2 separate regions of the Homo sapiens genome follow, and region 1 is linked to region 2. Evidence: fine-mapped expression QTL. A gene starts in region 2. The other region holds a variant in brackets. All regions are shown on one strand. Distances are between the middles of the regions.

Region 1 (2,915 bases), 250 kb before region 2:
TAATAGTTTTTTTGGTGCAGTTTTCAGGTTTTTGCAAATATGAGATCATATTATCTGCAAATAAGGATAATTTGGCTTCTTTCCAATTTGAATGCTCCTTATTTCATTCTCTTGTCTGATTATTTTAGCTAGGACTTCCCAATAGTCAGATTTTAGATAGTGTTGTAAGGTATAGGTAACAGGATTTAATGATGGATCAGATGTGAGATGTGGGAGGAAGAAAGGAGTCAGGGATGACTTTCAAGTTTTTGGCATGAACAATTAAAGGGATGAAGTAGTTGCCTTCTCTTGAGGGAGGGAAGACCAGGAGGAGCAAACTTGTGTGGTTTTTTGTTTTGTTTTGTTTTGTTTTTTGTTTTTGATGCATTAGGTTTAAGATGCTTATTAAACATCCAAGTGGATGTGTTGATTATTTATTTGAATGTGAATTTGGAACTCAGGTCCATATGAATTTGGGAGATCCTCAGTATATAGATGGTATTTAAAGTCTCAAACCTAGATAACATTGCCAAGGGAATGTTGAAGGTAAGATAGAGAAGAGATGAAGTCTGAGGGCTGAGTCTTGAGGCACTTCAGCGTTTAGAGGTTGTGGAGATAAAGAAGAAAAGGATACAAGGGAGTAATTTATAAAGTAGGAGGAGAACTAAGAGAGTGGTGTCTTAGATGGAAGCCAAGGGGAGTAAAGTGTAGGGAACAGTCAACTGTGTCAACTGTTGCTGAGAAGTCAACTAAGAGGAGGACTGAGAATTATTCACAGCATTAAATACCATGGAAATCCTAGGGGACCTTGACAAGAGCTGTTTTGATGGAGCATTGGGATGAGAGGCTGATTGGGATGGTTTTAAGAGAGAATGGAAGGAGAGGAAATAAAAACCCAAAGTGTAAACTCAGTTATGCTCTAGAATGAGAGCAGAGAATTGGGCTAGTAGCTGTAGCAAAGCAAGAGGTCAAGGATGGTTTTTAATGTTTTTTCCCTTTTTATTTTTATTGATGGGTGCTATTACAACATGTGGGAATGCTGATAGAAATGACTCAGTAGAATGGGTAAAATGGATGATACAGGAGAGGAAAGAGAGAAGAGGGGATGATTACTGAGTGACATCCCAAGTAGGCAAAAGGAGGTGGGATCCAGTAGAGTTTGAGTTCAGGAATTTGCATTAGATAGGAATGGGGACAGTTCATTTATAATAACAGGAAGGAAGAATATATGGTTAATGATGCAGCAAGGTTGGCAATTTGCATGAAGTAGGAAGCAGGGTGACCTGTTGAATATGAAGAGGTAAGAGTATAGATGTTTGAAGAGACAAGAGAAGTGTGAGAAAATCATTAGGAGAGTGAGGAAGTGAATGAACATTTAACTTTTTCATTGAGGCTCCTACTTGCATTTTAGGTGGGACAGATCTTGGACACGGCAGGATATTTTGCATTCCAGGGTCCCAAATGCCAGGATTACCTACCTAGTCATTCTTACAACTAAAAAAACTTGACTTCACATTTTCACATCCCTTTAGA[A/T]CTATTGATTATTGGGCCTTTTGAGGCTAATGGTCATGAAAAAGACTAATTAGCATGATTATGTGATACTTTTTTTTCTTAGTTATATTTAATGGTACATGGTTAATGATGTGGTGTGGCCAAGAGGCTTGGATTTAACAGGGTTAGAGTTTTGCTAGGAGAAGGAAAGAGAAGCAGTTGCTGGTATGAATGATAAATGATGGATCACGTAATTTCGGTTGGATAAGGACAGAAATGAGGGCATGAAAAGGATGAGGGACTGTGAAAAGTGGTAGCATTAGCGATTGTAGGTCCCGGTGGGGCGTGTTTGTCTAAAATAGGAAAGAAGATGAGAACATTGGAGGAAAGGAATACAAGGACTGGAGAAGCCTGAATTTTAGAAGGGTCATCTCTGCGGTTATTAAAATTCTAATATTTATGCCAGAAGTAAAGTTGAGTGTGTCACTGAGCTAAGTACAGCACTAAAGTCCTGAAGGAATGGGATAGGGTTTGGGGGATTAATCCAAGATGGAGAAGTCAAATAAGTAATGGAATTTGTGCTTATGGAGGACGAGTCAGAAATTCCCTGTTAGTCACTGTGGTGATGACTGCCATGGAAATAATGGGAAGAGATGGTGACCTTTTGGATGGAACCTCCTTAGATTCTGTGGTTATGGCACTCTAAGGAAGGATAAATTTAGGGTTGAATTCAAATTCTATTGAGCCTCTGCTGAGTGCAGGGCGATGTACTAGGTGCTGTGGAGATAATAGTAAATCATATCATTAAAACTGAGTAATAGAAATATAAAGGAAGCTGAAAAAGTGCTGGATGGCTCAAAGGAGGAAGAAATTATATAAACTGAAGTATTAGGTAAGGCTTCATGGAGGGGTAGATTTGAGATGGGCATTTGATGAATAGAACAATGACAAATCATGATGGCGTAGTGGCTGCAGTCCAGGTAAGGGAATCGTTTAACTCAAGCTTAGCGGTAGCACATTGCAAGGTGTTCTGGCATAGAGTCATTATTCCCGTGTTGACTGGAGCTGTGGTGGTGAGAGAAATGACAAGAATGACGATAGGACCTTGGATGCCACTGAATATTTGAGTTTAGTGCCAGTTGCTTAGGTAATTAGTGGTTATTGAAGGTTTTGAAGAGGAGTCTGATGTTCTCAAGGTAAAATTTTCCTCAATGATGGGCTGAAATGGGAATAGTATAGGAGAGGATAAATCCCCGTAAATGGTAAAACATAGTAAAACAACTTTACACAGTGGTATACAAGACTTCCAAATATGTAAGTATCCTTGAATTATTAGATATCTGTAGTAGTAAAACAAGGATTAAAACAAGATTCCTGTTCCTATGCACTATCCCCCTTTCCCTTTTTAAAAATTGAGATGGGGGTCTCTGTATGTTGGCTAGGCT
Region 2 (2,915 bases):
AAGTGTTGGGATTACAAGCATGAATCACCTCACGCCACAAATATTTCAACTTTAATTATGAATCTGAGTTAATATCTTGAATTAAAATTACATATGAATTTTAAATGTTACCAATACATAAAAATCAATCATGGATTGAAATTTTATTAATACAAAGTGAACTCTACACAGGAAGATTTATAAAGACTTCTCTTCCCTATTTTGTTTTTTTGTGTTTTTTTTTTTTTTTTTTTGAGACGGAGTCTCGCTCTGTTGCTCAGACTGGAGTGCAATGGCACAATATCGGCCCACTGCAACCTCTGCCTCCCGGGTTCAAGCGATTCTGTTGCCTCAGCCTCCCGATTAGCTGGGACTACAGGCGCCTGCCACTACGCCCGTCTAATTTTTGTATTTTCAGTAGAGACCTGGTTTCACCATATTGGACAGGCTGGTCTCGAACTCCTGACCTTGTGATCCACCCGCCTCAACCTCCTAAAATGCTGGATCACAGGCGTGAACGCACCCGGCCCCTATTTTCAGTTTTCATAAGTAAGCTCTAGTTAAGTCTTCAATACATATTAAATAGCACCTTATACAAACTTGAACTAAGGCAACACGTCCTTCGTTTAAAAAAAAGTTGGATGAACCCTCCTTAGTACCTAAGCTTTTTTTCCCAACTACTTTTCAAACATCAGTTTAATGTTACAAACACAATTCCATTCACCTTCCGTTGTTTTTTTGTTTTGTTTTGTTTTGTTTTTTGTTTCCGAAACAAAAACAGCTGGAAACTCACTTATTGTGTACTTACTACTCCAGGCACACGTTTGTAAATACATGTGAATGGAAATATAAAAGGAATTGTGAAACCCTGTCCCTAACAGGTTTTTTTCCCTGACAAAAAGCCAACGAAAGTCAAAAGACCTCAAATTCAAGTTGGAACATGATTTAAAACTAACGGAGCACTAGTAGCGGGAACACTAGCAGCATGATCACTTAACACGGTCTCCTAGGACATTTGTTTCCAAAAAAGAATTCTCGAGTAACCAAAGGTATGCAGATGCGTGAAACGCAGGAGCAGATGATAAACAGTCTGGATGCAGAAGAGCAGAGACCAAAGTACTACCAGGCAATGGACAGCGAACTCCTGGAAGTCTTGAGGTTATCCTTTGGCTCAACACGTAAAACCCTAAGGGTGCGGATAATCAAAAGACACAGCGATGAGGTACTGGGGTAGCTGCTTCAAGGAGATGAGAAGACTGGGATGCCAAGAACGCTTTAATTGCAGACGGGGAAATGAGACTGAAAGACCAACCTGAGATGGCAAAGCGACAGTGAAAACTAGCAAGTCTTTGAAATTTAGGCGCAGCCCAGGACAGCCTGAGGCCCAGGCTAGCTTAAGTCACAGATACAGGCCTAGTGAGCAATGGGGAGAAACTGAGGCGGGGGGGAGCGGCTGGATTCCCAAATAGGACCAAGCATAAAACATTAAAGTCAAGACACAAACCGGCTTTGCTGGGGGACCAGAGGGAGGGCCAAAAACGCAAGACTCAGAAGACCGGCACCCACACAGACAGGGGGAACCGGTTTGGGCAGGGGCTCCCAGAGCGGCCCAGCCTGCGCATGCGCCCTCTCCCCTCCGTCGCAGTTCCCCCTCCCCCCAATCACGGCTCCCCTCAGAACTCGGCCCGTCGAGGGAGCTGAGAGCAGCTCCACTGGCCCGACCCCGCGGGATGAGAAGACAGCTTGGCTCCCCGCAGGGGCCGTCGGAAAATACCCCTGGGGTTGGTAGGTAGGAGGGTGGGAGGAGGAGGAGGGGAAACACGGCCCTACCCGACCTGCCGTCTCCTCCTCCGCCGCCCGCCGCTCGCCGTCCCGGAGGCTCCGCCGCCTGGGCCTCCCAAACCGCCCTGTCCCCGCCCCCCCACCCCTTTACTCACGTGAGAGCGACTTCTTCCGCCCTCCGCCCCGCCCCCTGCCCCGTCTCATAGGTCTGCGACCATGACGAGCGACCCTATTGGCCCAATACCGGGAAGCGAGGCGGAGCTTCCTCTTCTCCGAGCCCCACCTGGGCTTTCAGCCCGCCTCAGGACTGTGCGCCTGCGCGAAGTGCACTGGCTGTGAGCTGGACCTGGGCTGTCTTGTGTATTTGGAGTTGGACAGCCAACTACGTGACTGCAGCCGGGACTGGGGACGATGGAAGCGGACTGGGTAGTACCTGTTGAGCCTAACAAAGGGTACAACCCCAGAGTACTGGTGCTTGAGCAAGGAATCCCCCTGCTCACCTTTCATGTGCAAGTCCTGTTTGAAAATCAGTACTTCACAGTGTAATAAAATTCACCTGGCATTTACTGAGGGCGCACGGTGTGTCAGGGATTGTGATGGTTCTTTATGTGGCTATCTCATTTCAGCTTCACCACAAACCCGTCAGAATGGTACCATTTTTCTCCTTTTATAAAGTAATTTAGCTTTAGTTACAGAATCCAGTCTAGAAGTCAAAACTTCCGACTGCCAAGTCCTAAAACCACTGGTACAACACAGCTGCCTAAAGGCATTTAAGGCACACAAGAGGACAGAAATGGACAAGGTTACATCAGATTGTGACTCAAAGATGAGATTTTTATTTAAAAATCATTCAAAGGTGAAACACAGCAACAGCAATATAATGAAGTTTAAAGTCCCTGTCCTCAATGAATGTACAATGCAGTTGGGAACAAAAACAATGATTATTAAAGTGCTAGTTAAGTCTTATTTTTAAAGAGACCCTATCTTGTCCAGGATGCAGTGCTGTGGCTATTCACAGACGATCATATCACACTCCACCCTCGAACTCCTGGGCTCAAGCTATCCTACCACCTCAGCCTCCTGAGTAGCTGGGACTGTACATAGGCATGCACCACTGCACCTGGCTCATAAGACTTGATAATTTATAAAATAAT

Evidence for each region. PIP is the estimated chance that this variant, and not a neighbour inherited with it, causes the effect.
Region 1: its variant is the best candidate, but not a certain one, in a credible set for the expression of RABGAP1 in lung (TOPMed, PIP 0.55).

Annotation. Positions count from the first base shown.
Region 1 is chr9:123,192,560-123,195,474 of GRCh38, reverse strand. All of the region lies in intron 2 of STRBP (spermatid perinuclear RNA binding protein), which reads left to right. Among named protein-coding and RNA genes, the nearest start is that of STRBP, 75 kb to the left of the region's middle. The variant A/T (reference allele first, on the strand shown) is at 1,513.
Region 2 is chr9:122,939,988-122,942,902 of GRCh38, reverse strand. RABGAP1 (RAB GTPase activating protein 1) reads right to left here and starts at 1,883. Exons shown (of 26, transcript NM_012197.4): 1 at 1,810-1,883. It overlaps LOC105379839 (a long non-coding RNA gene), which reads left to right and starts at 1,655. Exons shown (of 2, transcript XR_001746924.3): 1 at 1,655-1,764; 2 at 1,968-2,327. RefSeq lists silencers at 1,614-1,943, 1,954-2,113 and enhancers at 1,360-2,084, 2,274-2,343.